Regions from separate parts of the Homo sapiens genome. Here region 2 is linked to region 1. The links come from fine-mapping of genetic effects on gene expression. A gene starts in region 1. The other region holds a variant in brackets. All regions are shown on one strand. Distances are between the middles of the regions. Region 1 holds the start of CD244 (CD244 molecule). Region 2 overlaps LY9 (lymphocyte antigen 9).

Region 1 (4,394 bases):
GCTAAAATATTTAGGAGTAAGGGGACATAATGTCACAACTTGTTCTCAAGTGGTTCAGCAAAAATTATTGTACATTTATACACACATATACATACAGCTAGAGAAAGAGAAATAAAGTAAATGTGATAAAATGTTAATTGGTGAATCTAGATGAAAGAAATTCAAGAATCGTTTGAACTATTCTTGCAGCTTCCCTGGAACTTCACAATTATTTCAAACTAAAAAGCTTAAAAATTAAAGAAATAGAGCAGCTTCAGTCAACTTATGCCAGGCCTGCCCTATAGACACAGGATGGAGGAGGAAGCAGCTCAGGAAGACCCAAGTCCATCCCTCCCTGTGCCTAACAAGTCACTCACCAGCTTCACCGTGCAAGGGCCGGCATAGCCAAGCCCAGCTATGGTGCTGAAGCCCTGGGAATGGGGGTGGAGGGAGCATTGCCCTCTGTCACACAGGCTCATGACCTCAGGGTCATAACCTCAGCTTCTCTGTTACTCTCATCCCCACAGCCAGGCACCAATCCCATCAGTCCTCCTTCGGCTGTCTGAGCTGCATTCAAGGATCCTTAGACCAGGTTCCAACCTAGCTCTCCTGCCTAGAATCCTGGGCCACTAGGCCCCCCAACCCACCCACAAGAGCTGCAGGCTCCACTCCTCCCTCCCTGCTCCCTGTTCCTCATCATGCTCTGCCCTAGGCTGCCTGCATCCTTACAAATGTTGAGTCCACCTGAGCCTTGACTGTGTCTTCCTGAAGGACACAAGAATGCTCAGGGACTCGGTAACTGAATTGAGTACCTGGGCATGGGACTTTATTGCATATGGGGCTTCTACCTGGCCCTGAACCCACACAACACTATGCCTCAGTTTCCCCTCTTTGTGCCCAGAGTGTACCCTCCTCTAATTCCACGCTCTCCACCTCCGTGAAGCCCCTGCAGAGTCACTGATCTAAAATGCAGAACCCTGGCTGGGCATGGTGGCTCACACCTGTAATCCCAGCACTTTGGATGGGGGAGACCAAGGTGGGCAGATCACCTGAGGTCAGGAGTTCAAGACCAGCCTGGCCAACATGGTGAAACCTGGTCTCTACTAAAAATACAAAAATTAGCCAAGCATGGTGGCGCACGTCTGTAATTTCACCTACTCGGGAGGCTGAGGCATGAGAATCACTTGAACCCGGGAGGCAGAGTTTGTAGTGAGCCAAGATCACGCCACTGCACTCCAGCCTGGGTGACAGAAGGAGACTCTGTCTCAAAAAATAAATAAATAAATAAAAATTAAAAATGAAATAAATAAATTAATTCAATTAAATTAAATGCGGGATCCAGGTTTCAGAGCATCCTGGACCCCAGAACTGGAGAAAGAGGGGAGCAGCCCTCAGCTGGGATCCCCAGGAGTAAATGTTAGATGGCTCCATGCCTGGCTGACAGCTTTAGGTTTGCTGTGGAGCTTCCTCATATTGTCTCCTTCTTCTGCCCCAACCCTGCATGTCCCTAATAATTTCCAGGCTCCTGTGGCATCTGGATGGCTGAAGAAGCCGGGGAGATGAGGGACCATGCCTTCCAGCTTCTTCCTGGCTGCTGGCCTCGCCCTCCCCTCCCTGGGCTCAGCTTTCCTGCCTCAGGGGTCCATCCATCTGTCTCTGAGCTCGAGAACCACCCACTTCCTTGGGACTGCTTCTCTTCTCTCATGCCACAATTGGAGGATGCAATTTTCATCATCTTTACAGGCGGCTGGAAGGAGGCTTCTCTCTCCACTACACGGAAGGGTAAATTGAAGCCAGTGGGAAGGAATCTCCTCACCCAAGACTTCCTGGATTGCTGGTGGCAGGGCCAGATACCCCTCTCACAGACCTCCCAGTGCACTGCCAGCCTGTCCTGTCTGATTTAGACTGTCAGAGCTGTCAGGAGCTGCTCGGAGTCAAGTTCCAGATGACTGTGTATGTGGCACAAGCAGAGGCTCTGGCTCTGATCTCCCTGAGGGGCACAGCTCCTAGTCCCTCCCTCGCCCCACGCCAGGTAGGACCTCCTTACCTTTGCCCTGATACACCTTGAGGAGCAGGAGGAGTATGAGGGTGACCACTTGCCCCAGCATTTCCACAGGACAGAGGGGCCAGGCCAGCCCCTCCACCCCACCAGACTCTCTGCCGTGCACGGGCTCAGCAGTCCCCAGTCAGCAAGAGGACGATGGGGAGCAGAACTGCCTTGCAACCTGTCCAGCCACAGTTTCCTCAATTAGAGGCTGTTAACGCCTGCTGTGAGCTGACAAGGCCACTGAGAAAGCCCCAGCGCCTGGAGCTGGTCTGACAGTTCCCACAAGCCAAACTGGTGAAGCTTACCTCAAGTGGGAGGGTGCTTGAAGTTCACAGTGACTCACAAAGCCAGTTTCAAAATTGCATCCCGTTCTCTGCTTCAGCCCAAGAAGTCTTCCAATTCTCTGAATCCTATATGGAGAGACCCCCATGGGGGCCAAACAGCCAGTATCCCCAACTGTTCCATTCCAACAGACATTGTGGAGGTGGAGTGGAGAGGGGCTGGAGGAGGAGTGGGCTGAAACGTAGGGCCCTGGATAAGCGGCTAACAGTGTTGAAGGAAAGGAGGAGTAGCTGAGAGAACATAGGAAGAGACCTAAGGGCTGGAGGCACTAGAAAAATCTAGCAAGCCTGGGGATTCCATGCAAGTTGACACCAAAGTTTAAGCACATGTAAATTAAATTTGTTTCATAAGAATTTGTTTCACACGGGGCACAGTGGCTCACGCCTGTAATCCCAACACTTTGGGAGACTGAAGCAGGCAGATCACTTGAGATCAGGAGATCGAGACTAGCCTGGCCAATATGGTGAATCCCCACCTCTACTAAAAATAGAGAAATTAGCCAGGCTGGGTGGCGTGCACCTGTAATCCAAGCTACTTGGGAGGCTGAGGCAGGGGAATCACTTGAGCAAAGGAGGTGGAGGTTGCGGTAAGCCAAGATCACGCCACTGCACTCCAGCCTAGGTGACAGAGCGACACTGTGTCTCAAAAAAAAAAAAAAAAATTTTGTTTTGCTCCACATTTCCGATCTGTATGCCTAGATTCCCTCCCTTCCTCTTTTTCTACTTTTCTATAGTAGTCCTCTCTTCCCTCTTTTGTCTTCTCCCAGAAGTGACATGGGCCTATTTTTGCTGCCTTCCCATCCATGCTTGGACGCCACCCTCCAGGAAGGCCAGGCAGCTCTGGATCTGCTTAGGCCCCCATGGAGGGGTGGGGACAGCGGCATCCCCCCTCCCCTGGAACACTGTGCTTCAAGGCCAGGCCCCAGGGTTCATGCCTCTTTCTTTCTTCCTTCTGCTTTCCCCTTAACAAATACTTTCAGTTCCCTTCAAGTCCGCTCTTATTCTCTTTTTCCATCCTTTGGTCCATTTCCAGCCACCCTGTCTGAACTGGGCAGGGGGCAGCAGACTGACAGCTTCAGCTGCCAACAGAGGCAGCAGCGGGGCTCTGGACAGAGCGCTGGATTTAGAGTCAAAGACTTGGACTTGCAGCTCCCATTCAGCAACTTACAACCTATGTGATTCTGGCCTTGTTGCTGTCTGAGCCTGTAGGGTCAACAATACATCCTCCCCACCTTCACAAGGCAGTTTTCAGGATCAAATTAAAAATGATACTCCAGAATATGCACACAAAAAACACTGGACATAGATGAGGTTTTTGTGGTTTTGTTTTCATTTTTTTAAGCTCTGAATAGCTTTTTCCAGCGGGTCTAATGGTTATCATCTCTTCTCTCCTTTGTCTGCTCCCAAGGGGCAGCCCTCAACCCTGGGGAATTTCTTCAGAGTTGATCTGGCCATGTCCTTAACCTTGAGAAGTGGTGCACAAGACATGATATAACAAAGAAGGGTAAACTTCCTCACACGACAGGTGGAAAACAAGATCCAGCTGTTGGAACCCACTAATGAATGTGAATTAGGAATCAGCCTCTCCAATCCTGACCCCAACACCAGCTCCATCCTTCCCACCAGGCATGTGGATGACCTATCATCCCCTGGAAACAGAACTCGGAGCAGCTGTACCACTGAGTGTGTGTCTGTCTTGTGGTCCCTGACAAACTCTATCACACAATATCTGCTATTTGTAGGCTGATCGCAGTGGCTCATGCCTATAATCCCAGCACTTTGGGAGGCCAAGGCAGGTGGATCACTTGAGGTCAGGGGTTCGATATCAGCCTGGCCAACACGGTGAAACCTCATCTCTACTAAAAATACAAAAATTAGCCGGGTGTGGTGGTGTGTGCCTGTAATCCCAGCTACTCGGGAGGCTGAGGCAGGAGACTCCTTTGAACCTGGGAGGCAGAGGTTGCAGTGAGCTGAGATTGTGCCTCTGCACTCCAGCCTGGGAGACAGAGCAAGACTCTGTCACAAAA
Region 2 (4,394 bases), 38 kb before region 1:
GATGGAGCCGCCATTTTGAAAATGTCTATTCCTTAGTCCCTGCTGGTGTTCACCCATGCAAGCTCCCAGCTTGCAGGCTGCTCTTTGTTAGAAAATGATTTGGGGCTGCTTTTCAATAAAAAGAAAAGCCTGACCAAGGACTCCCATATCCTTACTATCTGCCTAAGTAATTTCTTCTTAACTCCTGTATCAAAATGGGCTACTTCATGTGCCCCACAGGCAGGGTTGACATCCACCCAGTGTGCCATGACAGCGTTCACAGCATATCCACCCAGTGGGCCACACCGGCCCTCACAGCGCATCCACCATGCCACTGTTCACAGGTGCCCATGCTGATTGCCTAAGGCCTGACCATTGCAATTGTTAAGTATTTTTAATATCATCCTTTCGGAAAAAGAGACTGCTCCAGGCTTTACACCTGCCTCTAATCATGCTGTTCCCTCCTCCACCTAGAATACCCTTCCACTCATCGAAATATTGAATCCCTATTCAAGACCCACCTCAATTCTGCCACTTTCATGAGTTCCTCTCTGCTTCTCTAACCAGAGTCATCTCCTCTCAACTCTGCACTTTCCTCATACGTTCCATAGGATACTTGGCAAAGCTGGCCTTACATTACTGATTTACACATGCACCTGACTCCCCAGCTAGACAGGGTGCTCCTCCAGGGCCAGGTCTAATTTACCTTTGTGTTTCCCCAGAGTACCTGCAATGATGCTTGGCATGGTTTATCCCACAGGGCCAGAGAGTTGCTAAAGTCTATCACATGTCATATTTAATATTTATCAAATGAATGAATAAATGAATGCTTGAAAGGAAGGAGGAAGGGAGAGTGGAATGGACCCCCTGAGGGAAGACAGGACAAAACAATCTCCTTCGGTTCTCTAGGCCTCATCTAATGCAGGCATCAGAGCAGGCTGGGGCCTTGCAGCAAAGCAAGAAGAGAGGTGGGGTTGGCATACTTTTATCAGCCCTGCACAATGTGTTCCAGAACCCACAGCTGGCCACACGCTATACTCTGTGCTCTCCCAAGGATATGAGAAGCTGGACACTCCCCTCAGGCCTGCCAGGCAACAGCCTACACCCACCTCAGACAGCAGCTCTGACAGCAACCTCACAACTGAGGAGGATGAGGACAGGCCTGAGGTGCACAAGCCCATCAGTGGAAGATATGAGGTATTTGACCAGGTCACTCAGGAGGGCGCTGGACATGACCCAGCCCCTGAGGGCCAAGCAGACTATGATCCCGTCACTCCATATGTCACGGAAGTTGAGTCTGTGGTTGGAGAGAACACCATGTATGCACAAGTGTTCAACTTACAGGTGAGCCCTTCTGATCAATACACCTTCCTCCTCCTCCCATGTCTAGCGGCATCTGAGATCCTGGATGACTAGTTCCTCCAAACTGGGGGCTGGGGCCTGGAAACAGGACTAGGGGCATACGGGCAGGGACTCATGGCTGTGTCCATGTTTACCAAACCTTGGGATCCTGTGGAACGAGGGACTTGTCCCTCAGCTCTCATTCTTGGGCCACTAATAAGGAAGGTGTTGGAGAACCAGAGGCACCGTCCCCACTGCACTAAGGCAGCTCCCACCCTGTGTGTGAGATGGGAAGCCAGGGGGTATCCCCTCTCCTCAAGGGTTGAGGGTAAAACTGAAAAGCTCTCATGTGGTCACTAGGGCTCATCTGCTGTTGGTGTGTTACAGGGAAAGACCCCAGTTTCTCAGAAGGAAGAGAGCTCAGCCACAATCTACTGCTCCATACGGAAACCTCAGGTGGTGAGAACTACATTCTCTGTATCCCAAGGCCCACAGAGTGAGGAACTATTCCTTAGACCCTTTGAACTGAAAATCCGAGATTCCCATGGCTAAGGATCTTAAATTCTACCCACTATGCACCCCTCAGATACATTCCATGGTCAACAGAGATGCATAAACAAATATTCCTGACATCTGTGTGACCAAAGGCTGAACATTTCTAATTGATTTAATAATATCTTATGTTGGTTATTTTTAACACTGACCTGAATGACAGCTTATACACTCAAACAAGGTAGGGTCTTTATAGCTTTTTAAATCTATCTCTAACCCTAATCCTAATCTACCTAAATGACAACTTCTCAAAACCATTGAAAATTAGCTAACAATTTAACAACAAGAATTTTTGGAAAATACACCACCACCTACAGTACATTAGTTTTATTCTAGTGTTTAAAAAAATCCCAGCCGGGCGCGGTGGCTCATACCTGTAATCCCAGCACTTTGGGAGGCCAAGGCGGGTGGATCACAAGGTCAGGAGATGGAGACCATCCTGGCTAACATGGTGAAACTCCGTCTCTACTAAAAATACAAAAAAAATTAGCCAGGCGTGGTGGCAGGCGCCTGTAGTTCCAACTACTCAGAGACTGAGGCAGGAGAATGGCGTGAACCCAGGAGGCAGAGCTTACAGTGAGCCAAG[T/A]TCGTGCCACTGCACTCCAGCCTGGGCAACAGAACAAGACTCCATCTCAAAAAAAAAAAAAAAAAAAAAATTCCCAGCCTGGGCAACATGGTGAAACCCTGTCTTTATAAAAAGTTCAAAAAAAATTACCCAGGCCTGTGGTGGTACACACCTGTAGTCCCAGCTACTTAGGACACTTAAGTGGGAGGACCGCTTGAGCCGGGGAGTTCAAGGCTGCAGTGAGCCAAGATCATGCCACTGAAATCTAGCCTGGGTGACAGAGTGAGACCATGTCTTAAAAAAAAAAAAAAATCCCTTACAGGTAGAATTTATCATTAAATAATCATAATGATAATAATAACTGACTTGCTTTTATATGAAGTTTTGCAGTTACAATACCTTGATACACATTCTTCTTTGATCTTTGTAATACTTCTAGAAAAGTGTTGTCATCCACATTTTATAGCCAAAGAAACAGATTCAAGGAAGTTAATTTTGCCTAAGGTGACAAAGATAGTACTTGGAAGTTCCAGTATTAAGAACCATGAGGCGTTTTAAGATCATCCTGAGTAATCTTAAATAATTCACCTTGATCTGGCTGTCCATTTCATTTTCACTTTCCTGAAAACATCGTGTCCATTCATACTTTTGCTTTCAAATCTCCCCCAAATTCCCTCCCTATAACATATTCAAAAAAATATTTTTTAAAAAACTCTCGGCTGGGCGTGGTGGCTCATGCCTGTAATCCCAGCACTTTGGGAGGCCGAGGCAGGTGGATCACCTGAGGTCAGGAGTTCAAGACCAGCCTGGCCAACATGGTAAAACCCCATCTCTACTAAAAATATTAAAATTACCTGAATGTGGTGGCAGGCACCTGTAATCCCAGCTACTCAGGAGGCTGAGGCAGGAGAATTGCTTGAACCCAGGAGGTGGAGGTTGCGGTGAGCAGAGATCACACCATTGCACTCCAGCCTGGGCAACAAGAGCAAAACTCCATCTCAAAAAAAAAGAAAAGACTACAGTTGACCCTTGAACAATTCAGGGGTTTAGGAGTGCCAACCCCACCCCACTCCATGCAATCAAAAATCATTCTATAACTTTGACTCTCCAGAACTTAACTACTAACAGCCTACTGTTGACCAGAAGCCTTACCAAAAACATAAACATTTGATTAACACATATTTTGCATGTTACGTGTATTATATACTGTATTCTTACAATAAAGTAAGCTAGAGAAAAGAAATTATTAAGAAAATCATAAGGAAGATAAAATATGTATACTATTCATTAAGTGGAATTGGATCATTGTAAAGGTCTTCATCCTCACCTTCACATTGAGTAGGCTGAGGAGGAAGAGGAAGGGTTGGTCTTGTTCTTTCAAGAGTGGTAGAGGTAAAAGAGGTAGAGGAGGTAAAAGGGGAGGCAGGAGAGGCAGGCACACTCAGTGTGATGTTTATTGAAAAAAAATCTGCATATAAGTGGCCATGCAGTTCAAACATATGTTGCACTTATGCCTGGTGTTCCATTATTGGAACACTAAGCGTGTAGGAGTTATTTATATTCTACTGCTCAAGATCATCACCAGGGTCTGATTTTTCACTCATGCACAAATTCAAAAAATTGCAACCTCCTGCGTAAATGGGTTAAAGTTACTTGACTACTTAATAAATTGTATGCACAGTTCCTAAGGGTTTTTCAGAAGCTGAAGGTGGGGGATATCACTGCACTGTGGTAAAGAGGAAACACATCATGAAAAAGGAATTTGGGTTGGGCCTTAAAAGATGGATAGAATTTGCTCAGTAAACACTTGTTGGGATGTGTGGTTTGGTTCAACCATCATCCATCTCATCCTGACTTCTAGACAGTAGTCTAATGCTTAGCCAGCTAGAGACTTTGCCTTGGAACCTAAGGCCAAATCTGTGCTGTTCACTGCATTCCCAGAGCTGCTTTCTACTCT

What was found. PIP is the estimated chance that this variant, and not a neighbour inherited with it, causes the effect. A credible set is the group of variants that fine-mapping cannot tell apart.
Region 2: its variant is the best candidate, but not a certain one, in a credible set for the expression of CD244 in whole blood (TOPMed, PIP 0.65).

The regions. Positions count from the first base shown.
Region 1 is chr1:160,860,591-160,864,984 of GRCh38, forward strand. CD244 (CD244 molecule) reads right to left here and starts at 2,297. Exons shown (of 9, transcript NM_016382.4): 1 at 2,027-2,297. The coding sequence starts at 2,087. RefSeq lists an enhancer at 2,113-2,162.
Region 2 is chr1:160,822,474-160,826,867 of GRCh38, forward strand. It overlaps LY9 (lymphocyte antigen 9), which reads left to right. Exons shown (of 10, transcript NM_002348.4): 8 at 992-1,323; 9 at 1,708-1,776. Among named protein-coding and RNA genes, the nearest start is that of LY9, 28 kb to the left of the region's middle. The variant T/A (reference allele first, on the strand shown) is at 2,459.